2 separate regions of the Homo sapiens genome follow, and region 1 is linked to region 2. Evidence: fine-mapped expression QTL. A gene starts in region 2. The other region holds a variant in brackets. All regions are shown on one strand. Distances are between the middles of the regions.

What was found. PIP is the estimated chance that this variant, and not a neighbour inherited with it, causes the effect.
Region 1: its variant is fine-mapped to the expression of SGPL1 in whole blood (INTERVAL, PIP 0.94).

What each region holds. Positions count from the first base shown.
Region 1 is chr10:70,673,790-70,689,449 of GRCh38, reverse strand. ADAMTS14 (ADAM metallopeptidase with thrombospondin type 1 motif 14) reads right to left here. Exons shown (of 22, transcript NM_080722.4): 2 at 14,455-14,894. Among named protein-coding and RNA genes, the nearest start is that of ADAMTS14, 9.1 kb to the right of the region's middle. RefSeq lists enhancers at 623-1,267, 5,996-6,841. The variant G/A (reference allele first, on the strand shown) is at 8,723.
Region 2 is chr10:70,807,037-70,822,696 of GRCh38, reverse strand. It overlaps SGPL1 (sphingosine-1-phosphate lyase 1), which reads right to left and starts at 6,749. Exons shown (of 15, transcript NM_003901.4): 1 at 6,571-6,749; 2 at 5,817-5,886. The coding sequence starts at 5,843. RefSeq lists silencers at 6,334-6,443, 6,524-6,613, 6,634-6,953.

The DNA.
Region 1 (15,660 bases), 130 kb after region 2:
TCGAAGGCCACCCCATCACTGCTCCCTCCTTTGTGCTCTGTGGTGGTGGCTCTTGGCAGGTGCTCTATCCCTGTCCAGGTATCTCTGTCCTTCTTCTAGACGTGAGCTTCAGGGGGATGAACTGGTTGGTGCTGCACAACTGACTTTGGAATGAAACCATGCTAAACAAGCATCCTTCGGGTCAGGCCTTAAAACAAACTCCCTTGGGTATACCACCCTTGTGAGAGATCCGCTTCCCCAAAACTGTGGCCGTGGATTAGGGGACGGCATATTTTACCTAGCATCTCCCTACGCGGGGACTATGAATTTTGAAGTGACAAAGCCTCAAAGGCACGATGCACCCAGGCCAGCAGTCGGCCAGGCTGTGGAACACAGGCCTCTTCAGGCTGGAGGAGCTAACTCATAGAGTGTGGGCCCCTGCCAGCCTCAAGGGGTGGATGTGAACCTCTGCCTGGGGGACGGGAGTGGCTTGGAGGGGAAAGTGGCAGGCTGTTTCTGGACAGACCAAAGGTGTAAATATGTGGCTGGCTTAAAAGCAAAGGCTCTCCCTCTCCCTCCCCCTCCCCCTCCCCCTCCCCCTCCCCCTCCCCCTCCCCCTCCCCCTCCGGTCTCCCTCTCATGCGGAGCCGAAGCTGGACTGTACTGCTGCCATCTCGGCTCACTGCAACCTCCCTGCCTGATTCTCCTGCCTCAGTCTGCCGAATGCCTGCGATTGCAGGCACGCGCCGCCACGCCTGACTGGTTTTGGTGGAGACGGGGTTTCGCTGTGTTGGCCGGGCCAGTCTCCAGCCCCTAACCGCGAGTGATCCGCCAACCTCGGCCTCCCGAGGTGCCGGGATTGCAGACGGAGTCTCGTTCACTCAGTGCTCAATGGTGCCCAGGCTGGAGTGCAGTGGCGTGATCTCGGCTCACTACAACCTACACCTCCCAGCCGCCTGCCTTGGCCTCCCAAAGTGCCGAGATTGCAGCCTCTGCCCGGCCGCCACCCCGTCTGGGAAGTGAGGAGTGTCTCTGCCTGGCCGCCCATCGTCTGGGATGTGAGGAGCCCCTCTGCCTGGCTGCCCAGTCTGGAAAGTGAGGAGCGTCTCTGCCCGGCGGCCATCCCATCTAGGAAGTGAGGAGCGCCTCTTCCCAGCCGCCATCACATCTAGGAAGTGAGGAGCCTCTCTGCCCGGCCGCCCATCATCTGAGATGTGGGGAGCGCCTCTGCCCCGCCGCCCCATCTGGGATGTGAGGAGCGCCTCTGCCCGGCCGAGACCCCGTCTGGGAGGTGAGGAGCGTCTCTGCCCGGCCGCCCCATCTGAGAAGTGAGGAGACCCTCTGCCTGGCAACCACCCCGTCTGAGAAGTGAGGAGCCCCTCCGCCCGGCAGCTGCCCCGTCTGAGAAGTGAGGAGCCTCTCCGCCCGGCAGCCACCCCATCTGGGAAGTGAGGAGCGTCTCCGCCCGGCAGCCACCCCGTCCGGGAGGGAGGTCGGGGGGGGGGTCAGCCCCCCGCCCGGCCAGCCGCCCCATCCGGGAGGGAGGTGGGGGGTCAGCCCCCCCGCCCGGACAGCCGTGCCGTCCAGGAGGGAGGTGGGGGGGTCAGCCCCCCGCCCGGCCAGCCGCCCCGTCCGGGAGGTGAGGGGCGCCTCTGCCCGGCCGCCCCTACTGGGAAGTGAGGAGCCCCTCAGCCCGGCCAGCCACCCCGTCCGGGAGGGAGATGGGGGGGTCAGCCCCCCCACCCGGCCAGCCGCCCCGTCTGGGAGGGAGGTGGGGGGGTCAGCCCCCCGCCTGGCCAGCCGCCCCGTCCGGGAGGGAGGTGGGGGGGTCAGCGCCCCGCCCGGCCAGCCGCCCCGTCTGGGAGGTGAGGGGCGCCTCTGCCCGGCCGCCCCTACTGGGAAGTGAGGAGCCCCTCTGCCCGGCCAGCCGCCCCATCCGGGAGGGAGGTGGGGGGGTCAGCCCCCCGCCCGGCCAGCCGCCCTGTCCGGGAGGGAGGTGGGGGGGTCAGCCCTCCGCCCGGCCAGCCGCCCCGTCTGGGAGTTGAGGGGCGCCTCTGCCCGGCCGCCCCTACTGGGAAGTGAGGAGCCCCTCTGCCCGGCCAGCCGCCCCGTCCGGGAGGGAGGTGGGGGGGTCGGCCCCCCGCCCGGCCAGCCGCCCTGTCCAGGAGGGAGGTGGGGGTGTCAGCCCCACGCCCGGCCAGCCGCCTCGTCCGGGAGGGAGGTGGGGGGGTCAGCCCCCCGCCCAGCCAGCCGCCCCGTCCGGGAGGGAGGTGGGGGGGGTCAGCCCCCCTGCCCGGCCAGTGGCCCCGTCCGGGAGGTGAGGGGCGCCTCTGCCCGGCCGCCCCTACTGGGAAGTGAGGAGCCCCTCTGCCCGGCCAGCCGCCCCGTCCGGGAGGGAGGTGGGGGGGGTCAGCCCCCCCGCCCGGCCAGCCGCCCCGTCCGGGAGGTGAGGGGCGCCTCTGCCCGGCCGCCCCTACTGGGAAGTGAGGAGCCCCTCTGCCCGGCCAGCCGCCCCGTCCGGGAGGGAGGTGGGGGTGTCAGCCCCCCGCCCGGCCAGCCGCCCCGTCCGGGAGGGAGGTGGGGGGGGTCAGCCCCCCCCGCCCAGCCAGCCGCCCCGTCCGGGAGGTGAGGGGCGCCTCTGCCCAGCCACCACCCCGTCTGGGAGGTGTGCCCAACAGCTCATTGAGAACGGGCCAGGATGACAATGGCGGCTTTGTGGAATAGAAAGGCGGGAAAGGCGGGGAAAAGATTGAGAAATCGGATGGTTGCCGTGTCTGTGTAGAAAGAAGTAGACATGGGAGACTTTTCATTTTGTTCTGCACTAAGAAAAATTCCTCTGTCTTGGGATCCTGTTGATCTGTGACCTTACCCCCAACCCTGTGCTCTCTGAAACATGTGCTGTGTCCACTCAGGGTTAAATGGATTAAGGGCGGTGCAAGATGTGCTTTGTTAAACAGATGCTTGAAGGCAGCATGCTCGTTAAGAGTCATCACCAATCCCTAATCTCAAGTAATCAGGGACACAAACACTGCGGAAGGCCGCAGGGTCCTCTGCCTAGGAAAACCAGAGACCTTTGTTCACTTGTTTATCTGCTGACCTTCCCTCCACTATTGTCCCATGACCCTGCCAAATCCCCCTCTGTGAGAAACACCCAAGAATTATCAATAAAAAAATAAATTAAAAAAAAAAAAAAAAAGCAAAGGCTGACAAAGGCCTTCAGCCACCCGTTGGGAACAGAGTTTGCATTCAGACCAACTTGGTCCTAACAAACGATCTCACCTCCAGACATTTCTCTAAAAAGGGGCCTGTTCTACTGCCCCATCAGCCATGCTACTGAAAGCAGAAGAAAATTAGACTGCAGGGTTTTTCAATGTTCCATGACAAGTAATGTGTACATAACAGCAGCCCTCTCCCTCTCCAATATTTTGAAAATGGATAAAACAGCAGCACTGGTGACTTGAGTCTGAGAAACACCAGAAGGTTCCGTTTGAGCATCAAATCCCACTAACTGGGCCATTGACATCTGTTTTTCTTAGTTGGCCTCCCAGTTTCAGAGAAGACAATGACACGCAGAAGTTAAGCAGCCCTCCCCCTCATAGTGGGAGCCTCATAAACACCTCTACTCAGTACCCCCAGGCCCCTTCACCTCCCACCACCATTAGACCAATCACTTTTAGCATTAATCATTCTGAAGCTGTTGCCACAGCTACCATATCACGGGACAGCACACAGTTTACGACCTTGAGTTTCTGTTCACATACGCTTGGCCTTTCCACTGACAGGAGAGGCTGCCTGGAACTGCGAGAGGAACATTGCCTGGGAGTCAGGAACCTTGGTCCTTGCGTGCCCTGACACCTGACACTCACCTGCTATTCCATGACCCTGGATCTCCTCCCCAACTTGAGCCTCGGCTTCCTCTACTGGAAAATGAAGAGGGAGCTAGAGGGCCCCAAAGCCTTTTCCAGCCACAGCTGTCTCCAACTCAGGCCAAAGTCAGGGCGAATGGTGGAAAGTACGCTGAGCTGGGATCCATGCAGGTTTTCATAACACAAGGGTATCTGCAGGTGCCTGAGCTTATGTTGACAGGGAGCTCCTTGGTGCTGCTAAGGATGAAGCAGCATGTAAATATTATCACTGTTGTTGTTTTTAGGGCTTTGAAAGCAGGGCAAGACCCACATGCTGAAAATGGAATGCTGGGCCTGGTGGATGGTTTGGGAACTTTCCACTGCAGTGCCTGGGAATGTGGAATCTCCTGGGCCCTCACTGAGAGCCCACCCTGGGCCTGTACCACCCTGGGGCTGGAAGGCACATGGAGAGACAAGCACAGCCCCCATCACTCTCACCAGCCTGCTAAGCAGCCCTCAGGCCGCCCTCCCTCCAGCCAGTGCCTGAAGACACAGAGGAAGAAAAATAAAACCAGCCCTTGCTGGAATGGGAGGCCGGCTCTGCTCCGGAGGAGCCGCAGTGAGGTGATGTCTGGCTTTTATTCCATATCATAAATAAGTTATTAATCCAGGGCAGACAGTGAAGCATGGTCATGAGGAGACAAGGGAGGTAAAACTGCAAGATCAGACTGGCTGGAGGACTGGAAAACCACCCAGGACCCAGGACCCAGGACCCAGGACCCAGGCCCGGGGCCTCTGCTCAGACAGACAGCGGCCCAGACAGGAGGGGGCCTCTGGAAAGCAGGGGGAAGAGCCCTGGCATGGGCGCCCAGAGAGCTGGAGACAAACCTGCTGTGGATCCTGCCTCAGTTTCCTTATTTATTCTAAGACATCAGCAGGAAGAAGAAGAAATGCTAACTTTTATTTCTCCAGGCACTGTGGCAGCACTTTAAGTGCATAATTTCTAACCCACAAAACTACAAGGTAGGGACACCCACTTTACAGATACATAAACTGAGGCTCAGAGACGTCAAATCACTTGCCTAGGGGCAATGTGGAAGAATATTTGCAAAGATGGCTGCAACTTGTCCTCTTGTTTCTGTGCACCATCTCTTTACAATGAGACTTTACCACTCCTTCCCTCAAATGGAAGAGTCCATTTCCCCACTCTTGGAAAATTTTGTCCAGCTTTATGGCCTGCGTTGACCAGCAGAAGGTGCAGAAGTGATCTTATGCCATGATATGGTTTGGATCTGTGTCCCCACCAAATCTCATTTCAAATTGTAATCCCTAATGTTAGAGGTGGGGCCTGCTAGGAGGTGATTGAATCACAGAGTCGGTTTCCCATGAATGGTTTAGCACTATCTTCTTGGCACTGTTACCGTGACAGTGAATGAGATCTGGTTGTTTAAAAGTGTGTAGCACCCCCCTCCCCTGCTCTCTATCTTGCTCCTGCTCCCGCCATGCGAGATACCTCACTCCCCTTTGCCTTCTGCCATGATTGGAAGTTTCCTCAGGCCTCCCCAGTAGTGGAAGCCGCTATGCTTCCTGTACAACCTGCAGAACTGTGAGCTGATTAAACCTTTTTTCTTTCTAAATTACCCAGCCTCAGTTATTTTTTTATAGCAGTGCAAGAATGAACTAATACATGCAACTCCCAAGGCTAGGCCTCAAGGGGTATTCTAGCTTCCACCTTCCCCCTGTTGGAGTGCTACCCTGAGACGGCCTACTGGAGGATAACTGGCCACAGAGAGAACTGAGGCCGCGCGGCCTACAGCCAGCACCATGCTGGTCATGTAAAAGAAGCCAGCTTGGGCCTTCCAGCCCAGCCCACCCTTCAGCGGAGCACAGCCACGTGAGCAGGCTGGAGCAGGCAGGGGAGGAACCAGCCAGCCCACCCACAGAGTTGTGAGGAAGGACACAATGTTGTTTTCAGTTCCAAGTTTTAGACTGATTTGTTACACAAGAATGATAACTGATAGTCACTCAGTTTCCCACCCTGCCTATTTCCCCAGGAGAGCCTGTGCTGCCCACCTCCTGGAATTTGGCTGGGATCAAGACACTCCCATGCAGACCACAGCCCCTCTGTGTCCTCCAGGCCCTCACATTGCCCCAATCACGAAGCAGTGACTTCCTCTTTCCACACTGAAGACCCACAGTCACCCTGGCAGGCGGGTCAGGAGAAGCCCCCTTTCTTTCCAAAGACTCCCTTTCTTGTTTCGTGTGCTGCAAACACAGATTGCCGAGAGGTACCCAGTATTTCCCAGGAAACCGGGTTATCTAAGTGGCAAACATGAGAAACCAGCTCCCACTCTCAGAGAGGGTGTGCACCCTGAAGACAGAAACTTGCTCACGAAGGGAGTGCTGAGGGCGGGGAGGTAAACGGGTTTCCCCTACACGCCCACTCGGCCCACGGAGAGTGACTACGTGAGCACATGCAGGGGGGTCTGAGGCCCAGGGACAGCGTGCCACAGCGGGCCTGCAGGGCCTGCCAGGGCGCAGGAGGGCAAATGGCAGTGTGCGTGCCTCAGCAGTCACCACCTCTGGCCTAGGAGCAGATGGCCAGATAGCCACGGAGAGGACGACAAATGCTGTCCCCTCATCTAACTACAGGAGTTTATGCCTCCTCACCCAGACGGTTGTCCGGCAGGCCCAGTGCTGGGTCATGAGGACACATAGGTGACCACACTCTGCCCTGCACCTCTGGGAACTACAGGTGGGAATGTTCAGGGCCAGCAGCAAACTGAAGGAGAAGCAAGGTGCACCCCGAGAAAACTAACGGGCCTGAGGGGGTCCAAGGCCAACACGGGCTCTGTGTGCCCCACTGAAAACCCAGAGACCCCTCTGGGAGTGGCAGCCAGAAAAATGGGGTGCTCTTGACTTCTTTCCTGCCACCATCCCCTCAGACCTGGTAGACTCAACCAACCAGTAATCCACACCATGTAATAGCAACAGCTGAGTGTACTGGGGACTGCACTAAACCCTTTACACACATGACAACTGTATGAAGTGATTACTATTATGATCCCCACTTTCCAGATGAGAAAACCGAACCACACAGAGGTGAGCTAACTGCTCAGGGTCATGGCATGTAACAGGCAGAGCTGGGATTTCAGCCCAGGCGGGCTGGTTCCAGGGTCACACTCACCCCCCAGCACATGCTGCTGAGCTCACAAGCAACCCAAGGCCTCCAGCTAACAGCCTTGCTGGGTTTGGTTCATACAATGGCTTAAGAATTACCTAAAAATCCATATTTCCCATTTCTCCTACAATACTCAAACCTCTTATAATACCAGAGTGACACTGGAGTGGGCAAGTCCTCTCCCTTTTGCCATAATCCCACCCCCTATGACTACCCGGTCCTCTTCTCTTTCTTCTGTTACCTGCTTACTCCTGGTGCATCTGAAATTTCCACCTCCTGCCCCTCCAACCCAGGGGCCCAGACTTATGCTCAATGCTCCAGGAAATGCACACATTTAAGACAGTCTCTGATTTCTAGGAACTGGTAGTTGAAATGGGACATACATCAAGTGAGGGGACAGGGAAGGTGTGAACAGCACAGCCAAGGGAAGGGGCTGAAAAGTGAGGCGAGAGCAGGCCAGCCTGGACAGGGCAGGGGCGGGGACAGCCATCTGTGAGCTGGAGCCCATAAGGCTAGAGAGGCAGGTCAGCAAGGCAGCAAGGTCTGCACCAATGTGGGGCCACACACAGGGCTCTGGTGCCCCCTGCCCCTCCCAGGGTCTCTAGGCACACATGTGTGAGGGCAGGAGGCCTGCAGGTCAAGATGTAAGGGGACAAGCCAGCTGGGTGTCTGGGAGGGGGTAGGTCACAGTGAGACTCCAAGCCTCCACACTCCACACCTCCAAAGCAGGGTGGAATGTGGAGCCGACCCGCAGCTTCCCAGGGCGCCCACAGGACGCCTACTCACTCATCCAGCCAGTCAAGAGCAGCCCCCGGGGCAAGGACAGGTGTTTGGCACAGGAGACCAAAAAGCCACAGACAAGTCTGCTGTGCACCAGCATCGAGCTGGAAGGATGAGTGTCTTTCTCAAACACTAATGTGACTCCTGTTTACAAACCTCCATGGCTCCCCATGATGCCAGGGGTAAGGCCAAGCTCCATGGTGAGGTTGACATTTTCCAATTACATTTTCACCATTCTCCCTCTCCCACGGAGAGCTGAAATGACCTGCCATTTCCTGAATCTTGCAGAGACACAGGATTTCCTTCCCTACAGAATGACTACAATTCTCACTCCGTGGCTTTGAAAACCCCTACTGATCCTTTAAAACCCAGCCCAAATGTCCCCTACCCTGGAAGCCTTCCCTGAGCACCCCTCCTTCTCAGTACTCACCTCCAAGCCACCCCTGGCATGCATTATGCTTCCCTGTATTCCCACAAATCACTGAAGCTTAGTATGGTCTGTGTTGCTTTTTACTGTCTACTGTGCAGTTCAGCCTCCCCTTTAAACCGTGGGCTTCTGGAATACAGGGGCAGAGGGCTGAGCTTCATCCCTGCATCCCCAGGACTTGGCCAAGGGCCAGTCAGATAATGCCAATGATCTATATATCATTGCAATAAAGGGACTCTGATGATATTTGTAATATTTATCATTATTAATAATCACTGTTAAAAAGTAATCACGATTGGCTGGGTGCGGTGCCTGTAATCCCAGCACTTTGGGAGGCAGAGGCAGGTGGATCAGCTGAGGCTGAGGTCAGGATTTTGAGACCAGTGTGGCCAACATGGTGAAACTCTGACTCTACTAAAAATACAAAAATCAGCTGGGCATGGTGGTGCACGCCTGTAGTCCCAGATGCTCAGGAGGCTGAGACAGGAGAATCACTTGAACCCAGGAGGC[G/A]GAGGTTGCAGACTTTTATCCATTTTTAAGGCCCTGCCATAAACCATGCCCTACACTTTGCCTTATCTCATTTAATCCTCTGAACAACCCCATAGACAACTGTTCCTCTGCCCTTCCTACAGATGAGGAATCTAAGCATAGGGAGATGAAGACACTCGCTCAAGGTCCCACAGCTGATCTGTGCTGGAGTGAGCACATCCTGCTCTTTCCCCCAAACTAGACTATTTCCTTGGAATTACGAACACCACCTTTCGTGGGGCCCTTCCATAGGCCAGGTGCTTTTAGTAACAGGTTTATTTTATTTTTTTTATTTATTTATTTTTTGAGACAGTTTCGCTCTTGTTGCCTAGGCTGGAGTGCAGTGGTGCAATCTTGGCTCACTGCAACCTCCACCTCCCGGGTTCAAGCGATGCGATTCTCCTGCCTCAACCTCCTGAGTAGCTGGGATTACAGGCATCCCCACCATGACCGGCTAATTTTGTATTTTTAGTGGAGGCGGGGTTTCTCCATGTTGGCCAGGCTGGTCTCAAACTCCCCACCTCAGGTGATCCACCTGCCTCAGCCTCCCAAAGTGCTGGGATTACAGGCATGAGCCACCGCGCCCAGCCAGTAACAGGTTTATTGAGATATAACATACCATATAATTCACCCACTTAAAGTGCATATTGTAATTGTTTTTAGTATATTCTCAGAATTGTGTAACCACTGCCACAATTTTAAAATATTTTCAGCCTCCCATAAAGAAGGCCCTTACCCTGAAGTTCTCAACTCCCCCCGCCCCACCCCACACTGTAGTCCCATTTTAAAGACAACAGGGAGGTGCCGAAGGAGCTTCTGTGACTTGTTCAGTGGTGAGCAGCTGGGCTGGGATGCAGCCTCCCCTGCCCCTCCCAAAGCCGTCTGCCAGGGTCTACTCAGTATAACCCATCAAAAATGCAAGATCTGCAGAGAGTGGAAAACAGAACCAGATGGTGACAAATCTTACACGTGTGGCTGCTTCCGCGCCAGGCCCTGACTCACAGAGGCACTGAAGGCAAAGGGGGAAACACGGTGCAGCCAAGCTCCCGTCACCCCGTCGCAGGGCATCAGGCCCCAGGGCCTGGGGAGGCAGAGATGGCCGTAGGAGAAGCAACCCTTCAGGAGGCTGGTGGCCTGGATTCTAGATGGGCACAGTGAGCATGCAGCCCCACTGAGAAGCAGGGACCCCACTCTGCCGACCCCAACCTTGCACGCCACAACTTCTCCAGGATCCGCAAAGAACTGATCCCCACCCCATGTTCCTCCCAGGTGCAGAGTGTTAGTGGCTCTGAAGAGTGGCCCGTCAGGTCACTGGACACATTCCCAGTCTGGGACTCTCAGGTCTAACAGCATCCCAGGCTAGCTGCCCACAACCCCAGAGGAAGCACTTTGCAGGCAGGACCAGGCCCCGCCCCCACATCCCTTATTTCCTGCCCCTGGACATCCTCAAGACTGGCTGGGTCAGTCATTCTTTCTGCTGGTCAGGGGCCTGGCACTATCTTTCATGTTTATAATGTCTGAACAGTCTTGAGCAATTGCTACCTCCTCCAGGGAACCTTCCTAGATGCCCTAACCAAACTAAACAGGTCCTTCTCCTGCTGCCTCTCACTAGATTCTCAAGTTTGCTTTTATGTCTGGGTCCCCACTAGCCTACAAACCCCTCCAGGGCAAGGGCCCTGCTTTTTCATTCCTGGATCTTTCTCTTTCCCCTCCCACAGCTAGGACACCCAGAAGGCCCTCCATAACAGTGGGTGGGAAGTAAGACAAAGTATCCCATACCCCAGTGTTAGGCATGAATTAACCACAATGTAGGAGGGAGCCATCAACTACAGGTTTACAGGGGCCTGGCTCCAAACTCCAACAAGGTCAGCCCCATGCCACAAAGCACCAATGCCAGAGCTGGAAGGGGTCTGAGCTTACACATCCCAGCTTCCTTAATGCACCCAGGAGGCAACTGAGGCCCAGAGAAGGGGCCAGCTTGCTCAGAGTCACGCAGCCATTATCTCTCAACTCCCAGCCCAGCCTCTTCAAGAGAGCAACCTACCCCATCCCTGCCCCACACCCCTTCTTCCATCCTGCCCTTCCTTCAAGGTCAGACCAAGCCCCCCTGCCCCGCGTGTCTTCTAGGGTCCACTCCCCAGCCCCACCTGACATGGTGCTCCTTCCTCTGCCCAACCATCACTAGCCTGCTCAAGCTCTTCCCCCTGCCCAGAAGGCCCTCCCCACCCCCTGACCCCAGCAAACTTCTACTCATCCTTCAAGGCCCAGTTCAAATGTCACCTTCTCTGACATCAAAGAAAACAATCACTCCCATTTACTGAGCACCCATCCCCACTGTGTTCTAGAAAACCAAGTGAATGCTGAAACTACTGGTGGGTTTCCCCCTGCATGGCACCCAAGTTCCTCGAGGACAGGGACCTGACTCTCTGCAAAGCAGGAGTAATAACAATATCTGCATACACACTTCAGAAGATTGAAGGAAGCAAAAGAGCTTTGTAAACTATAAAGTCCTGTACTAATGGAAGCTATCTGTATTATCTTCGTATCTCCGCCTATGACTCAGTTTCCTCATCTGCAAATGGATGGAGTTAATAAAAGCACATACACATATGCATGCTGTGTCTGGGCCACAGGAAGAACCCGTTACTGTTGCTGTCATTATCTGTGTCACTTTCATTTTCTTTATGATCTCCTGTGGACCTTGTCCATGGTCAGCACTCAGTACAAATTTTTTGAAATGAATGACTTTGGCATTTGAGATGTTAGAGAATATGGGATTAAAATCCAGAGACCATGTAAAGATGCAGAGTTCAATCTTATCAGAAATGCTACACCGTGGCCTTTGAGTCCAAAGGTGAGCTCAGCTGGGTCACTGGGACACAGCCCCTTGCTGTCACGGGACACAGGGCCATTTCCTGGAGTGGGCGGAAAGTCAAGGAATCCCAGCCTGGGGTGACCTCTGTGCCGGCGGCCCCAGTGGAAGGCAGTCAGGGAGTACCACTCCCAGGGCCTGGAGGGGAGGCGTCCAGATACTGGACTTCAGGACTGGCCTCTGGAAACAGCCAGGGTACATGTTGTGGTCCAGCCTGAAGCTCAGCCCAGTGAAGTCCATTTCTGCCCCTCACCAAGGGGAGGGGGACCCAGGCAAGTCACTTCCTAGAGCCTCAGTTCTATACCAGCTACCCAGCAAGCCTCCAGAAGCCTGTACCTGGACAGCCTCTGAGACCCGATCCGGCTTCAGCAAATGCCACACAGAATCGATTCCCATCTTCCAGGGAATATCAAGTATAGTCCCTCTTTGGACAAATGAGAAGAGTAAAGCTCAGAAATGGGGAGGGGGTGACTTGCCCAAGGTCACACAGCTAATGAGAACATTTACTCAGAGGCCACCAAAAATCAGCAACACCCTCTGAGGAATCCCCAGCCCCAGGCCCACTGAACAGCCCCACCTCCACCATCCGCCAGCCCCCAAAACCAGAGCATGAAGACTTGTCACCATATATGCTACACCACGTAGCCATGTGATCGTGCTTCAGGAGTGCTAGCTCAGGGTCCTTCAGGGCCCTCCCTGGTCCCTGTGGCACCTAGTGGTCAGTCACTACTTGTCAATGGGCTGCTGAGCTGGTTCAATGACAAGGGAGGTTTTCAGGATGCAAAGGGGGTGGGGAGTCACTTATTATTAGCGACGGTCATCCTCAGTTTAGGTTCTCACCATATATTGAGCATCTCCTCTGTGTCTCGCTCCAGGAGGGCAGTCAGAGAAGCTGGAGCCCTAGCCCTGTCACTGAGGAGCTTACAGCCTACCTGTGTGATGACTTTAGAAGGAATTCACCATCTAATTCAGTTCAGCTGCTGGCTTGCACCAGCACTTTCTCTCTACCTGCATGGATACTGTATCCCTGGATGATTCCTAACATCACTTGGGATTTTCCACCAAAACTTGTGGCCATGGCATAGCTCTAGCCAGCGGGGTGACCAAGGGCCCCTGTGGCACAGAGCCGCAGAGCCAGAGTGGGCTGGCGGCAGAGGCTCAGCCCAGACACCTGACAAGGCCTTAGGCTCCCCCAGCTGCCCTGACAATCTGCTTTCTCGAAGTCCGCTCTCAGGAACTCTTGAATCAGTTCACCTGCAGAGTTTGGTAATGATCAGATCCTGGTCCCTCCCCTGAGAGGCAGATTCTGCGCACCTGACAAGGTGCTCAGGTGATTCTAGTGCATGCTCAACTATGAGAACCAACTACCATGTAGATAAGCCCTCTCCATGAGGGCCCTACCACCTTCAATGGGATGAAAATTTATTCTGGGGAAGGCAAAAATATTACACCTTTGAATATATAAAACACAGATGGATATTCAGTGTATAAACAGATATTCAGTATATCTGTGGTATTAAAATTGCATGAGGAAAGCCAGGCACAGTGACAAGCACCTATAGCCCCAGCTCCTGGGATGCGGAGGCAGAAGGATGGCTGGAGGCCAGGAGTTCGAGGCTGCAGTGCCCTGTGTTTGTGCCTGTGAATAGCCACTGCACTCCAGCCTGGGCAACATAGTGAAAATCCACCTCTAAAAAAAAAAAAAAACCTCATCGTGGGGTAGACTGATGATTGGGAGGAAATGTCTAAAACATTTAGGGGTACATCATGATAAAAGGTGGAAAGCACTGGCCTAGACAGAGGCAGCCACGAAATCAGCAGATAAGACATCTCCTACACATGAGACAATGGTGACAAATGCTCCCCACCCTGCCAGTGAGGAAGGAACCCACAACCCCTCCCCATCTCAAATTTTCTCGCTCTCAAAGCTGAAGGGCAGAGGAGCAAGCGGGCCCCTTCTTGAGACCCATCAGCTCACATCTGATGTCTCTGGGGCAGGGAAGAGCTGCCCAACAGGACCTTGAGGCTGCTGTGCCAGCTCACAAGGGCCTGCACACTGAGGAGGAGCAGCGAGGGGAATGAGAGCCAACCCCAGGTGGGGGCGAGAAAGACAGCCCACCCCATGGCTTTCTGGTTTGCAATGTGGAGCCAACTAGCAGAGGCGCTCCCAGACTCTGGGAAGCATTGCGGAAGCAGTGGGGGTCCTAGGAAAGGGACACACAGAGCAGCCAGGAAAGAGCAGGCTGGCTCTGGGAGGAGAGACAGGGAGGAGAAGAGGAAGGACACGACGTCGCAATGTTACAAGACATAATAGCAGCCGCTAACTGTGCCCACGCCACGAGCCAGGCAGGGACAGCCCCCAGTGCACTGCCCAGTTAGGCAGGCCATATCATTAACACTCGCGGGTCAGCTCCAGGAGAGCAGAAGCCACGTCTGTCTCAGGCACCACTGTACCCCCAGCATCTAGAACAGTAAATATGTGCAAAATAAATAAGGGAAAGAACCACAGAGAGGTTAACTCATCCAAATCCTCACAGCTAGGCAGTGGCTCAGCCACACTTCCAACCCCAGTGTCTCTCTGCACTCAGAAACACCAGCCAAACAGCTTGTGATCCAGCTGGGTCCATGGAAGGCGAGGGGTGAACATCATCCCAACTTGGCCACTTCACACCTGGCAGCGCATGAACCTAGTGGCCCGCGGGGGCAGGCGGCACTCCCTCTGGAAGGCAGCACCACCCCTGCCTTGGCCCAGACTGCAAAACATGCCCATAGCAATCTCAAAACCATGTGAGCAGGGCATGGGAGGGGGAGGATGCAGCTTAATGAAAGTCTCATCCCTTACCAATCCGTCACAGTTGCTGATGGCAACAGCTGCCCCAGGCATTCCAGTGACACCTCCAGTGTACACACACTCCTGCCGTAAGGGCTGCCGGAACAGCTCCCGAAAATCCTCCTGCCACTCCACTGAGGATCCTGGCACTACCAACCTCCGATTGGGCCGCAGGCGCAAGTGCAGTTCCTTCCCGAAAACAGTGACATTGAAGTAGAGGGAGTGGCGCCCCACCCTGCCAGGCCACAGGGTCCCTCCTGGGTGCAGAGGGCTGCGAGCCACCCGGAGGTGACTGGAGTGTCGTGGTAGTGTGGGTGGCGTGTCCACTACCATGCTCCCTGCAGAGGCTGCTGCTGGGCCAGACACCACGTGGGAGAGGAAGCGTCCCCGAAAGTCTGTGCTGCAGGGCACTGTCACACCATAGTCACTGAGCTTTCCAGAGAGGTGCAGCTCTGTTGGAGGTAAACAAAGAGTCACTTCAATGCAGTCGGTTCAGAGGTAAGGGGAAGTCAGAAATCCCACGCGGGCAGGGAGGGATAGGAACTCTCAGTGTCACCCTTAGGTGGGCCCCTTAGCCTGAGTTCACCCATTTTCCATCCATTGCTTCCTGAGCTCCAGGATTCCTACACTTGGATGAAGGGTGTTCGGGTACCTTGTGGCACTCCCTGTAGCCCCCAGGTCCTTTTTAAACTTAGCAGAAGAAAGCAAATGATACCAGACAGAGCCCGGTCACTAGCAACAAGACTTCCGACCTTGGGCTCTGCCCAGAAAAGGACTAAAATTCCCCAAAAGCCAACAGGGCAAATAAAGGGAAGGGCAGATCTGCCCAAACTCCCCAGTGTGCTGAAGTCACCAGCCCAGGCTGGGGTAGTGCCCTCCTCCCCAAACTTCCAAGAACGCAGCTGGCAAAACAAACACACCTAGAAACCCAGGGGACCATGGGCACGTGTCAAGGAGAAGGTGGGGCTGCAGAGGGGAGCGGTTCTCTATTTTTCCAAGGTTAGAAAGAAAACTTTTTACAGGAGGACAGTGGCCGCTGAGATCTCTGTATGGCCGAGCCCCAAGCTGGATAAATATAGATCTTCAAAAATAAAAGGATATACAGGGGGTGACCTGCCCACTTGGGCTGAATTAACTGTGAGGTCATGGCCCCATGCTCCAGGCCACATGCCAGCAGGCCCATCCTCACGCAGCTCTCCTTGAGCCCAGCCAGGCTGG
Region 2 (15,660 bases):
TAGTACGCTGTTGGATTATGCCAAGATATGACTGATATATCCACAAACTACTCGCAGCCTTCACCATTCCATCTTCTCAGAGGGCCCCTATCTCCCCTTCCCCCACAGCATGGTTTTTATCTCAGTAATTGGGTTCTGTACATTTACACATACAGACTGATTCACATCAATTCCCTATGGAAATTCTTAAACCCAGGCTGATTCTCAATTCTGCCACCAATGTGCACAAACTGTATATAATATTAGATTGGGTAAAACCTAATTAAGAAGGTAAATATTACTAAAAATTCCTGACACATAGACTGAAAAGCTAAGTCAAATACTGGGATTTGGATTCTATCTGTTTATAACCCTCTTTTCCTTTAAACCAAAGGCTGTGGAAATTATTACAGCTCTGTTTCATCTATAACACTGGGAGATTGCCAAATACAGTGTTCATCCTGCAATGGCCACTCAAATGTCAACAAATTTTTTAATGTCCTATCAACAATCCCAATGAATTTTCCCTTTCTTCTAGCAAATCCTACAAACAAGACACAAGGCTCAAATAATAGAACAGAGCTCCTAAGGTCAATCTTTCAGTTTATTGCTTAAATCCCACTTGAGATTCAGAAAGAAAGCATCCCTGAAAAAGAGTCAAGGGTCACAGATAAAGACGCTCAAGGACCTGGAAAGATTCAATTTTTGAACCCAAAAAACAAAACTGAGGGAAGCTTGCTGTTTGCAAATCAAGAAAAGAGTGGTGCAGAAATGTTGCAAAGGACAGCATTTCTTAAGAATTCTGCATTGCTATAAAAGATCAGCTGCACCATCTCCAATATATATTCCTGAGCAGCAAGGCTTGACCCATGGGCAAAATAACCCCAAGTGAGACAATAACAGACACGTTAACCTCCAAGAAGGGAATCACTCCCCCACCCATATGAAAGCATAGACTACACAGATATCCAGGTATCTATGGTAAGAAACTTCATACCAGTTTCTCAACCTCACCACTATTGACATTCTAGGCCAGATAATTCTTGTTTGCAGGAAACTGTGCGTTGTAAGGTGTTTGGTTGCATCCCTAGCCTCTACCCACTAGATGCCAGCAGAACCCTTCAGGTGTAACAACCCAAAATGTCTCTAGGCATTGTCAAATGTCACCCAGAGGGCAAAATTGCCCCTGGTCAAGAACCACTGCCCTAGATAAGCAATTATCACTCAAACCCCACCTAGCACTACCAGGGTGCACACGCTAACCTTGATTCATCTATGAATATCAGCTAATTTAGTCATCATTTTCTGATGAGAAAAGAAAAAAGCCACCTAAGGGGTAGACTGGCTTTATAAAATACCTTTTTCTTAAAAACTACAAATATTTGGCAACTTGCAAAGTGATACCACCCTCTAGCACCAAGGAGGAGAGTATGAATAAAAAGAATGGTTGCCAAGGGGGAGAAAGGCTGCTACAAAGCTGTCTGACTTGAATTCCCTCTGACATCATCACAACTCTCAGCAGATGAACATACTCATTTTATTCTCTATGAGACACAGGTGGAAAGTACTGCAGTCTATGACACATCACATACGAGCAAATGGAAAAAGGCAAGCAAACTATCCTAATCAAATGATAACAAAATTGAGGGCAGGAACACACTGAGGGCTGATAGCCCGAGCCTGTCAGTCTGGATTCAAGGCTTGTTATATGTGGACTCCAGGTCATCTCCAGGTTTTCTCTCACAGCATACTGTCCACACAAGTAGTCTTCAACTCTATGACCCAATGCCCTCTTTTTATAACAAATATTCTGTAATCCCTTTTGCTACTCTGACATGGCATTTAAAGATTATAACACTATGCCTGCAGATACAAGTTTTAAAATTTCAATATAATTCATTAAATGCGACGTAAAAGAAAATAAAACACAAATTTTTTTTTTTTTGAGACAGTCTCGCTCTGTCGCCCAGGCTGGAGTGTAATGGTGCAGCTTCAGCTCACTGCAACCTCCACCTCCCGGGTTCAAGCAACTCTCTTGCCTCAGCCTCCTAAATAGCCGGGAATACAAGTGTACGCCACCATGCCCAGCTAATTTTTGTATTTTTAGTAGAGACAGAGTTTCGCCATGTTGACCAGGCTGGTCTAGAACACCTGGCCTCAAGTACTCTGCCCGCCTGAGCCTCCCAAAGTGCTGGAATTACAGGCATGAGCCACCACGCCTGACCCAATAAACAAGATTTAATAATAATTTAATAATAAAACATGTATTTTCAGACTACACTAGAAGAAAAAAGACTCCCTCCTCCCCCAGTCCCCCATTGCCAAAGTGCCCCCTAGAGGGTGGAGCTATCCTATCCCATCTGCTCCACACAGACCCTCTCCCATCAGTCACAATGGTCAGCAACCTCTACCCTTACCAGGGGTAAGGACACAAAGTAGGCAAGAGGGAGGGATCTGAAGTCAGACCAACTGAGGTCAAACTTGGCTCCACCACTCAACTGCTGTAGTTACTCTCTATAAGCCTCGTTTTTCATCTGTAAAAGAAGGATACCAAAAGGTTTTTGTGAAAATTAAATAAGTACAGTATTCCTACACTTAACATGTAATACATGCTCAATAAATGTTAGCTATCAGAGTTAACATTACTATTCCTGAATCCACCTTGTATTGTTTCCTAGCTTTTGCTCACTTATTCCATTAGCAGAAAAGACGGGAGACTGGATATCCATTTACCAGAGATACTCTTCAACAGATTCATGTATAATATAAGCTGCATCACAGGCCAGGTACAGTGGCTCATGCCTGTAATCCAGCACTTTGGGAGGCCAAGGCAGGCGGTTGGATCCCTTGAGCCCAGGAGTTAGATACCAGCCTGGGTAACATGGCAAACTACCATCTCTACAAAAAATAAATACAAAAATCAGCCGGGCATGGTGGCATGTGCCTGTCGTCCCAGCTACTCAGGAGGCTGAGGTGGAAGGATCATCTGAGCCTCAGAGATTGAGGATGCAGTAAGCTGAGATCATGCCACTGCACTCCAGCCTGGGCATCAGAGTGAGACCTTGTCTCAAAAAAAAAAAAAAAAAAAAAGCTGCATCCCATGACTTCTAAGACTATTTCTAATTCTGAGATGCTGCACTGCACTGAGGTTATTTTTTTATTCACTTAGGTCCTTTCTTCCCAGGTGGAGGGCCAAGAACATGTTTTACATATCATATAAAGTAGCTTGAGAAACACCTCATAGAATGATGGGTTAGTGTGCCACTGAAAACCCAGCCATGGTTATTGGTTCTTTACCAGTTAGTTCCAAATAGCATTATACATTACAGTCAAGGAATGAATGACAACTTTTCCAGTGAAAGCACTTCATGCAACATGTATGTTGTCTTCAGAAAGTGATGACTGCCTAGGGCCACTCGCATCTATGTGGATTAATTCCTTACAGCAACAAGCAAAGCAACACTCCTAAACATTCTAAATTAACAGGTGAGGAGGTGAAAGGTGGTGGCAACAGCTAGAGAAATACCTCAAAAGAAAACTGATTCCAAAGTTAATATTCCGAGTAAAAGCAGTCATTGTTCTGTTAAAGTAAATGCATAGGCCCTATAAGTAATAACCATATCTCTGTGCATGGGGAAATATCTTACATATAAGAACCTATAATTTACATAAACATATCCTTCTGTAAGAGGATAAACAGAAACTGTCAATTGCTACAAGTCACTCTGCATTAACCATCCAAGATGCTCACAGCGGTTATTTCTGGGTGATAAATTACTGCACGGGGTAGAGGCGAATGAAGGGGATGTAGGAGATAGGGGAGATTAACAAATCCCCTTTCCTTTTGCTTACTTATAGTTTCCAGTATTTCTAACATAATGGTCTTTGAATAAGAATTTTAAGTTATATAAGGGTATTAATTAAAACTGAAAAATCCATGAAATTTGGGGCAAGATACTATTTTAGATGAACTTTTCATTGGGATCTGCGGATAACCTAAGTATTCATCTATGTCTCTCACATACAACCTAAAATTATCCTAGATCCCTGCCTCAAATCACAATGGATCAAAACTTAGTTTCTCTCTTCTTTAGCCCCCCTGCAGACCTTACAGGTTATGCCACTACGATGTCAGCACCCAGTATAAGGAAATCTCACTACCAGTTTTTGCCAGTTTCCCAGTGACGCCAACCCACCCTCTGGGATAGTGAGATAAAGAGAGAGAAATGAATTGTTTTTAAAGCACTGATTTTGCACTCAGAGAAGTGACAAAAACAAACAAACAAACAAACTTGGCTGGACACGGCGGCTCACGCCTGTAAGTAATCCCAGCACTTTGGGAGACCAAGGCAGGTGGATCACCTGAGGTTAGGAGTTTGAGACCAGCCTGGCTAACACGGCGAAACCCCATCTCTATTAAAAAACAAAAATTACCCAGGCATGGTGGTGTGCACCTATAATCCCAGCTACCCGGGAGGCTGAGGCAGGAGAATCGCTTGAACCCGGGAGGCAAAGGTTGCAATGAGCTGAGATTGTGCCATTGCACTCCAGCCTGGGAGACAAGAGCTAAACTCCATCTCAAAAACAAACAAACAAAACAAAACAAAACGAAACAAAAAAAACTAAACCCGGACACTTTTTCTATACCACCATTTCAAAGCTATAAACTCTCCATAATTCTCACACTAAGAAGTCCATAAGGAATCATAAAAGTCCCAAAAATAAAATGTCATTTTGGTAAACATGCATTTAGCAACGCTATTCTTCCCTGCTCAGTAAAACAGCACAGAAAGATCTCAGGAGGAGAGGAAACAGCTCTAAAGCAGGCATACCTCTCTGTCCAACAAAAGAACTTAAATTCATACTGGTTCAATCCAACAAGCATTTGTTAAGCACATACTATATTCAGAGCACCATGCTAGGTGTTTATTCATCTCTAAACAAAGAAGACATGATTATCTGCCTGTCGAGGAACCATAACTCTAATCTGGAAGACAAACACTCAGATAAACTAGTATATGGCAGACCCTGATAAAACGTAATAATAGAGGTTTCAAAACTGCTCTGGTAGTACGGGAAGGGAGGGATTAAAACTGCAAGAATTATGAAAAAGAAAGCCAGGAGAGGTGACCTGTGCTCCTAGTCCTAGCTACTCCAGAGGCTGAAGCAAGAGGATCACTTGAAGTGGGAGTTCCAGGCTACAGTGAGCTATGATTATGCCTGTAAATAGCCACTGCACTCCGGTCTGAGGAACATAGCAAGACCTTGTCTCATTTAAAAAAAATAATAATAATTTTGAAAAAGATTCTTCAATAATTTAAGTTCTACATATACTGTATTGATGTATTTAATTCAGCTATTTATTCATCCTGATCATTCATCCAAAATAAAAGGTGGTTGGCCAGGCGCGGTGGCTCACGCCTGGAATCCCAGCACTTCGGGAGGCCAAGGCGGGTGGATCACCACAGGTCAGGAGTTCAAGGCCAGCCTGGCCAACATGGAGAACCCCGTCTCTACTAAAAATACAAAAATTAGCCGGGCGTGGTGGCGTGCGCCTGTAATCCCAGCTACTCAGGAGGCTGAGGCAGGAGAATCGCTTGAACCCAGGAGGCAGAGGTGGCGGTGAGCCGAGATCATGCCACTGCACCCCAGTCTGGGCAACAGAGTGAGACTCCGTCTCCAAAAAAACAAAACAAAACAAAACAAAATAAAAGGTGGCAAAACGCTCAGCTACCAAAAGCAAGCATCAGAGGTGAAATCTACACACTGGGATCCTTTGGACTAAAAAAACGGAGACAAATGCCTTGGAACCAGGAGGATGTCTGCAAAAGGCTCACCAACATCAGAAGGTCTGTGCTAGGCATCTTCCTCTTCCAGCCTCCTCTCCGCGCTCCCCTTTTTCAGACTCTGTAAAAGGGAACCAGGTTTGTTTACTTCTAGAGCTTTAAACTGTCTCGCCAGCCCGCCTAGATTCGCCAGAGCAGCCAAGTTATGGTTCTCTCCCTCCTTTGAAGGCTCAGATTTCATTCCCAGATATCACAGTCCACCCCTAGCACCCCAGACCAGCGAATCAAAATCCTGCTGCAACTAGGTTTCCCTCCCACAGCTGATGAAACTAATCCAGACCCAGACTCCCACAAAGCATTCCACCCAGGTGGAAACTAGGGGAAACGCCCCGTCTGCGCGCGATCGGGGTGGGGAGCCCAGCCCAGGCCACCTAACCCGGGCTGAAGGTGCCGAGGCTACCAGGGTCCTGCCTCCTCCGCACTCCCTTCAGAATCAGCACGGCCTCGCTCTCGTTGTCACCCCTCCCGTCGGAGGACCAGCAAATCCTGGCCGCCCATGCCTACCCCGCGGCAGGCGTGGGCTCCAGACCCGCCCCACCGCGGCCCCGCGCCCGCCCGCCGTCCACTTGCTTGGACCTCAGCGGCTGGTGCCCACGCCTTCAGCCCGCCCCCGCCCCCGCCCCGGCCGCAGCCGCCCCGCCGCCTCTGCCCGCCCTCGGCCCACCCGGCCCCTGTCCTCTCCTCACCCCGCGGCGCCTCCGTCCCGACCCTCACCGCCCCCCGGAGCCCGCGGCGGCCCCTCCACCTCCTCACGCCGGAACCAGCTTCCAGTCTCCTTCCCTCGAGCACCCGGCCGGCTCCACCTCCTGCGTCTCCCTCAGCACGCGACGGACTCGCAGGCCGCGAGACCCAGGCTCCCCTGTTGCCGCCGCCGCCGCCGAGATTGGAGGCCCGGCAGCCGCCGGCCTCGCCCCTCCCGGAAATGGCTCCGGGGGCACCGGCCCGGCTCCCGGACCCTGGCGTGCGCGGCCCCGCTGCTACCAGCCGCGCGCACGCCCAGACCCGGGCCCCACGGCCTGTGCGCGCCGCCTACCGGCCAGGCAGCGGGCTGCACCCAGACCCTCCAGTGAATGTCTCAACCAGGCCGTCCTGGGGCGGCTGTGGTATCCCGACGGTCACCAACTTCTCTTCCAAACTGCCTTGGACAAAAAACTTTCTTGTCACATTTGGTCACTTGGAGCCTCCTGAGAGAGTAGGTCTGCAGGGCATTGTACAAACTAATCCAAAACAGCCACAGAGTTGGGTCTCTTTCCTGGGCCAGGGACTTCATTTTTCCATCGAGGTCAGTGGTGCCTGAAGAAAAGCAACAAGGAAACTTATTTAATGGAAATATCATCCTCATCCTCCCCTCCACCACTGCCCCCCCCCACCCCAAAAATAAAATGGAGAGCAGAGGCTACTCTGCCATCACTACTTTCATGAGCAGTGCTGGGAATCACCTTATACACAAGTGCAAGGGCCCACTGGGATCACAAAGGTCGCCTTCATTTCCAGATGAAAAAACTAAGTCTCAGCTGGGTGTAGTGGCTTACATCGGTAATCCCGGCACTTGGGGATGCTGAGGCGGGAGGGTTGTCTGAGCCCAGGAGCTCTAGATCAGCCTGAGCAACATAGTGAGACCCCCAACTCCAAAAAGAAAAAGAAAAAACTAAGTCTCACATAGGTTTCCCATGACTTGTCCAGGTTGTCATAACATTGCTTTAGTGGTAGCAGAAGGCAGTGCAGTTACATGGAACCAACTGGTCAGTGACCTGCATTCAAGATTTTTTTTCAATAGATTTTAAAATGACACCTAGATAGACTCTTGAAATCTCTCAAACAAAAATGACACTAATGAGGGTACCCAATTCCATCCCCTTGGAAAATGTTGCCATGACACTAAAATTAGGGCATCATCACTACCGTCATTATCCACATGTAGTGCTTTCAGGATGAAATGTACTATCACAGCTGCCCTCCTCTGCATACCCCATCGGCACTTCCCACTTCCCCAGCCATAATGGTTAAGGCCCTGAAAGACTATGAACAGGTTATCTTTAGGCCTCCTCACCCCCATTCCGTCAGAACTCCCAGACATTTCTACCATCCAGAGCCCCTGACTCAGGCATGAACACCCCCATACCCTTAGCCCCCTCACTACTATTCCCCAGCAGACATGCATTCTCAGTGTTTGAGGGTCAGAAAATGTTCTGGGGCCTCCTGCCAATGCCTACTCATCAAGAGTTGCTTTAGGGTTTCAGGTATGCCTTCCCATTCTCCATCTCCTACCCTTCTGCTTTAATTCTTCATCAGATCCCCCAGGAACTGCACACCTCCTCTCCATCTCCTTGTTAGTTACCACCCCCACATCCTTTAATCTAGAATCTGTGCACCCAGATGACTAGAGGGCAGGGTCACGTCTGATTCCTCCCTACACCCTAACACACAGTATGCAGTCTGCTCATTCTTCCCAGATGCTCAAACCAATGCAATCATATCGACTGATCCTTGCTTTGCCAAGAACTATGCTAGGCACCTTTACATACAAGCCTTATTTATGGCCTGACTTGCCCAGATCAGGTGACTCTTATCATCCCTCAACCTGTAAACAAGGACACCAAGACCAAAGAAGGAAATGATCCTCCCAAAGACACACAGGCAGGATGGGGTGGAGTTTGTGTGGGAGTTTGGAGGGGAAGCCAAGGGTTCAGAATTTGTAGCGGGGACCTCGAATATCCTTTTTGGTTAATTAGAATCAAAAAATGGTAGGGCTAGAGGGGTCTCCAGCTATTCGCCAGCTCCACCCCAGAGAATACACAAATACACGTGAAGAAACTGAGGTCCAGAGAGAGATGCGACTCCTAGCAGTTCCTGGCAGAGCCCAGCCTAGAACATGGGTCTGGGTTTGCAACTCTCTGAGCCGATGAAGCCCTGTGTGTGTGTGTGTGTGTGTGTGTGTGTGTGTGTGTGTGTGTGTGAGAGAGAGAGAGAGAGAGAAAGAGAGAGAGAAAGACTTCAGACCACCCTGCTCTCCTACCCCACACTCCCTCTGACAGCAGAATGACGTTAGCAGGCACATAGCTGGCTGGTCAGAGGCAGAGGAGGGCTATCTGGAACTTCCATTCTGAAAGTGTGGTTTCCCTGAGAGCAGCATTGGCTTTACCTGAGAGCTTGTTATAAATACAGGTTCTTGGGGCCCCACTCCAGACCTCCTGAATCAGAATCTACAGCTTAACAAGGTCCCCAGATGATCTTAATGCACAAGAAAGTAAAAAGCACTTCCCTAGACACTCTGTTTGCAGAGAAAGCACAATTTTTGTTTGCTTATTTAGAAACATGGTCTCAATAATGTTGCCCAGGCTGGAGTGTAGTGGCTATTTACAGCCATTATCATAGCTCACTACAGCCTCAAACTCCTGGGCTCGAGCGATCCTCCTGTCTCAGCCTCCTGAGTAGCTGTGTCTACAGACACATGGCACTTTGCCCGGATAGAAGGCACGATAGTTGTATTAAGCGTGTGGGTTGTTTGGGATGGCTTAAGGAGGCTGATGAAGAACGTGTTTGTTTGGGGCTGGGGAGGGAACCAATGCTCCCCAGTTGTCCTTTGGTACCATCATGGTGCCTTCCAGGATGACAAAAGATTGTCATTCAGGTGTCAGTGAGGCACTGAAATTCCCGCAGATGACGGAAGGCTTGGGACGGGGGAGGGAGGTGTGGAGCAAGATGGTCTGGGATTTTTTCCCTCTGTGGCTTCTTTAATTTAGGCTAGGAGGATCTCCCTGCAGTGCTTGTGCCTGCCATCATTTAAACAATTCATGCCAGCAAATCTGGTTCTGCTTAAAATGGCAGCCATCCATGGCCAAGTTAATGACAGCCTCCCACTCATGCATGAGTGCACACTCCCACTCTAAAAAGCAGGCGCACACACTCTCCTGCCTCCATTCTTGCTCCTGACACCCCTTGCTCAGCCGGGGACCTTCTTGAGAAGCTCACCTCAGGACAGGGGTGTGGGCAGATCTTAGGAGGGTTGCAGCCTCTAGGCCCATCCTGGAAAGGAATGGCCCACAGGAAACCAACAAACAGTTCCTAGAGCCCAGAATGCCCAAGAAGAGGCAGGAAACCAGCACATAGCTCCAGCAGCAGGCTCAGCTGATCACAGCAGAGCTGGCCACCAGGGGAGGAGAGGCCAAGGGCCAGACAGACATGGGAGCCCCCACAGCAGGGACCAAATGCCCCGACATTGCCAACTGGAGTGAGCAAGGGGCAGCAAGTCACCGAGTTATCATGGGCCCCCTGACCTCACTCAGGTACATACCCCAGTTGCCAGTTTGATCAAAGTCAGAGTGGCCAAGCCCTCAGAGAGCCAAGAGTTATTTCCCAAGGAAACCTCATCTTTCGTAAAGAAGCCCACTGATAGGGTTTGACTCTGTGTCCCCACCCAAATCTCATCTCAAATCATAATTCCCATGTGTCGAGGGAGGGAGGGTGATTGGATCATGGGGGTGGTTTCCCCCATGCTGTTCTCATGGCACTGAGTGATTCTCATGAGATTTGATGGTTTTATGAGTGTCTGGAAGTTCTTCCTTCGTTCTTCTCTCTGCTGCTGCCTTGTGAAGAAGGGGCTTACTTCCCCTTCACCATCCGCCATGATTGTAAGTCTTCTGAGCCCTCCCCAAGCCGTGTGGAACTGTGAGTCAGTTAAACCTCTTTCCTTTATAAATGCCCCAGTCTCAGGGAAGTTCTTAATAGCAGTGTGAAACGGACTAATACACCCACCATTGTTGCTATCCAGGCTGCACAGTCACTCCTAGCAAAACATTAAAAACTGAGAGCAGCTGTTTCTCAAACACTGAATAAATATAAACTTCCTTTGACAAAATAGCTTTGAAGGCAGGGAGACAGGTCTCTACCCAGGAATCATTGTGTGGCCTCAAAATAGCTTTGAAGGCAGGGAGACAGCTTTCTACCCAGGAATCATTGTGTGGCCTCCAGCAAGTTGTTGTAACTGTCCAAGCCTGGGCTTCCTCCTTTGTAAAGCAAGAATTAACAACTACCCTAAGACTGCTGTGGCAATTGTAAGAGATGTATGTGTGTGCCCATCACATATGAGGCCTGATCCACCATAAGCACTCAATAATTATTACTATTATTATTATTATTAATTTATAAAGACAATGCCTCACTATGTTGCCTAGGCTGCTCCTGGGCTCCAGTGATTCTCCCACCTTAGCCTCCCAAAGTGCTGGGATTACAGGTGTGAGCCACCGCGCCCGGCCAAGAATTATTGGTCTAACACCCTCCGCATACATCCAGGGTGTACTCAAATAAGATTCCAATCTGAGCCGTGTGATTGACTAAGCCCAGCCTAGCCCTCTCACATTGTTGCTGGAAGCTGGTTTCGATCCCCATCAGGACCTGATCCTAACAAGTTGATTAGTCCTTCCAACGTGCCCCTTGCCCTCTCTAGGGCATGCTAGACCTTTGCAAGGCTTGTCTGAGAGCTACAGATCTACTGTTTTCCTGCAGGTTTTATTGCTTGTAGATCAGTAAGTCCTAAACCAACCAGATCCAACACCCCTGTTTATAACAAATATTGTTTTGTAACTCTCTTTTACTATCTTGAAATCAATATAGCACTATAATTTTAAAAGGGAATGTCACGATAAAATCATACATGAAGTTGGCAGAGGCATGGACTTACAATGGATATGTTTGCATTACAGGAAGGCAATATTTAATTGAATAGTGCTGTCACTGCTTTCTTTATATTTGACATTTTGACATAAGGACTAAATTAGGCTATTCATAGAATTAGATACAATCATCATGGATAGGAAAGCTGCAGATGCAGACCAGTATAGAGGTAGTGTCTTAGTGACTCAATTACTATGTGAGCAGCATTGCCATGGATGATGTGATTTTACAAAACTGTGGCTTAAGGTCGATAACGTTTCAGACAAAATGCAGGACAATTTACACACAGCTCTCAACATGGTAGTTGTACTCCAGGTAGGTTGTGCAATAAAATCATGTGTTCTTTTTTGTTGTTGTTGTTGTTGTTGTTTGAGACAGAGTCTCACTCTGTCGCCCAGGCTGGAGTGCAGTGGCACAATCTCGGCTCACTGCAACCTCTGTCTCCCCGGTTCAAGCGATTCTCTTGCCCCAGTCCCCCGAGTAGCTGGGATTACAGGCGCCTGCCACCACACCAGGCTAATTTTTGTATTTTTAGTAGAGACAAGGTTTCACCATGTTGGCCAGGCTGGTCTCGAACTCCTGACCTTAGGTGATCCACCCGCTTCAGGATTACAGACATGAGCCACTGCACCAGGGTGTTTTTTTTTTTTTAAACGTACATGTAAAGTGAAGTTGATTATGGCTCATGTGCCTATGAACTAGCTTTTCACCTCTATGAATATTCTGACAGTACATTCAAAAGATGTACAGGACTCAGGACAATTCTTCAATGTGATGGGATGCATCCCTCACTAAGAACAAAGAGGGACCTGCCTGTTGCCCCTGCCTGCAGCACCTGGGGGAGAGAGAAAAGTCATCATGGGCCTTATTTCTGCCCCAGGGACTGCAGTATTCCCCTCACTGAATGCCAGAAGCACCAGCCTCATCATTATGACAACCAAAAGTTTTTTTTTTTTTAATTTCCAGGGTGCTCCCTAGGGAGCCCAGCTGCCCCAGTGAGAGCTTCTCTTGTGGACTGATGACAGGGATACACTCCAGCACAAGCAGCATTTTAATATCTACAGCTGAGGATTTGTCAAGCTAGAAGGGACTTAAACATCATCCAGGTGCCCATCTAGCATGGATAGTCAGCATCTCCAAGGAGCCTTTCAAAATCCACATGTCAGGGCCCTCCTGCAGATGGAAGGAATGAGGTGTGAGGCCCAGTCATCTGTATTTTGTACATTCCCGGATAAGAGCTGCAACATTCTAACCATTCTCATCTCTTTCTAAGTCTTGGTCTTGCAGCTAATGGGGGCAGAACCTAGAATTCCTGACATTCCAGCCCCAGAAGCCCAGACCCAGAAAACACAGTGAAGCTTGTGGGTTCTTGTGGGGCTGTTGGGACGCTGTGCTGTGGGGCTTTGGATGCACCATTGACTCTCTCTGGGCTTCAATTTCCTCATCTCAAAATTGGGTAGAGAGGGGAAGCTGTTCCACACCTCTGTCAGTCTAGAGTTCTCTTTGGCCCACTGGGGTTCCCCTTCCCAGAATCTTCTGTTTGGTAACTCCATCTGTCTGTCTCCAGGTGCCCAGGAAGGGCCCTCTGTCTTGTGGTTACTTGGTCAGGGAGTGTTTGTCCTGGCCCTGCTGTGAAGGATGAACATGTTGCCAGAGGGCCAGGCCCTCTCCTGAGTGTTGACACAGATAGGACATGATGAAGAGGCCCAGCCTTATATAAGTCGTGGGTAGACAGAGGACCAGTGGGGTAATTTCAGCCCTTGGCCCAGGGTTGCTCCTTGCCTGGCACTGTAGAACTGGTTTCCAGGGTTGACTCAGAGGGGCTGGGCACCACCTGTATCCTCAGCTCAGAGGTCAGGGTAGCCGGGGGCGGGGGGGGGGCACCCTAATTCACAAGGGATGAAGAGCTTTTTATGTCTGAAAACTGAATGAAAGGAATTTCCTCTAGTCAGTGACTAAGGACAGAATATTCTCTGTGCTTGGGGGAGTGACCTAGGCAGAGGGATCAAGGACAGCTTGAGCTGAGAACACAGCAGGAGCAGGAGCTAGCCAGGCAGAGAGGGGCAGGAAGAGCGTTCTGGCTGAGCAAGTGCGGAGGGCCAGTGTTGGGGCAGGAGAGGCCAGGCCAGTGTGGCCAGAGAAACAAGCCTGAGGGGGACGGAAGGCAGAAGCTGGCATGCAGGTCAGTAGGGGCAGGCATGGCAAATACACATGCCTTCAGGGGCCCAGGCAGGCAATGTGACTGCTACAAATTGGGAATGTAGGCTTCAGGCTACATTCATTCAACATGCATACAACTATTCAATGCCAGGTTGCAATATTCAGGACCTGGGATGGATCATTGAGCAAAACAAAGGGCCCTGCCCTCATGCAACTTACATTCCAGCAGAAGGAGACAGACTAATAAACAGAATAAATAAGTAAACTATATGGTAAGTTAGGAGATGCTTGGGGCTATGGAAAGAGAGGAAGCAAAGCAATGTAAGGGAAGCACAAAGTATGGGGTTTAGGACAAGATGTCATGGATACTGCAATTTTATTTATTTATTTATTTATTTATTTTTTGAGATGGAGTCTCGCTCTGTCATCCAGTCTAAAGTGCAGTGGCGCCATCTTGGCTCATGCAACTTCCACCTCCCAGATTCAAGCAATTCTCCTGCCCTAATCCCAAGTAACTGGGATTAGAGATGCACATCACCACACCTGGCTATTTTTGTATTTTTAATAGAGACGGGGTTTTACCACATTGGCCAGGCTGGTCTTGAATTCCTGACCTTGGGTGATCCACCCGCCTCAGCCTCCCAGTCATGAGCCACCATACCTGGCAATTTTAATAGCATAGTAGGGTAGTTCAACATCTCAATTTTCCAAGGAAAGACAGAAATCTAGATTTTTAAAAATTCTCTCAATTTTAAAATTATGATGTCCTAAGAGCCTGCCAGAGTCAGAGATTATTCTCACTCTCTTTGCAAGGGCTACTTTGGTTCTTTATGTTAAACAGTGGGAACAGTTCAGCACTCCAAGAAACAGAGCCCACTTAAAGGGCTTGTCATTTACCCCTAGACTCAAGCTTCATATGTTACCAACAATGCTTTTCAGCCATCTGTGGAGAGTGCTTCCTTTTTCCATACACCCAAGTTGCTCAGAACTCCCATTTTCTTGGGGCAGACACAGGGGTTGCCTGCAGCCCCTCTCCTTGACCAAGCTCTAGGGGAAGCACTGTTGCTTCAAAGGGGAATAATGCAGTCCCTGGGGCAGAAATGAGGCTGATCATGACTTCTCTCTCTCCTCTAGGCGCTGCAGGCAGGGGCAACAGGCAGGTCCCTCTTTATTCTTAATCAACAACAGGAAATAGAAAGCCAGCATAATTCTGGATAAAAACAGCCCATAATTTTATAGGACTATGTGGTTTTCTTGTCGCAATGTGCATAATTTATCTTGTGACCACAATGTAACTCACTGAATCACCTCTGTTTGTTAATTCCATCTTTTTCCTCCCAAGATAGAAAGGGGGAAAAAAATCTCTAGTTGTATGGTATTGGTCAAGAGATCTAAAAGATCATAAAGTGTAATACGACCAAGGAACTCCCAGAACTTTGGGCAACTCATTCAGTTGTTTTGAAGATTTTTTAAAATTGGGATACATTGTATGTACAGACAAGTCCACAAATCAAAGTGTAGAGCTAGATGAATATTGACATAGTGAACACCATTGTTCAGCACCACCCAGATCAAGAAACAGAATGTCACCAGTTCAATTGTTTTTTAAATAAATGCAAATGCAGATGGCAATCCTCCTGTCTGAGACCTCCCAGTCCTGTAGGAAACAGTGTTTTGATCTTCATCCAAAGAGCAACAGCCGTTGAGGTCTTTTCAGTCAAGGGACTGACAATATCACATTTGTGTTTTAGAACAATCCGTCTGCGTGGTATGGAGAATGGCTAGGAGAGAATTCATATGGGCAGAAAAGGTACTCAGCAAAGAATGAAAATAGTTGGTTCTAGGGTACAACAATGGCATAAGCTTAGAAGACAGACCTTTGGAAAGTGACAGAACAGATTAAAACAAGACTCCCAAAGCCACAGGCTACCCTGTGCCTGGCAAGCAGGCTCCCACATGTGCCCTCAAGCCAAGATTCCCAGGGAAGAAGTCACATTCAGAG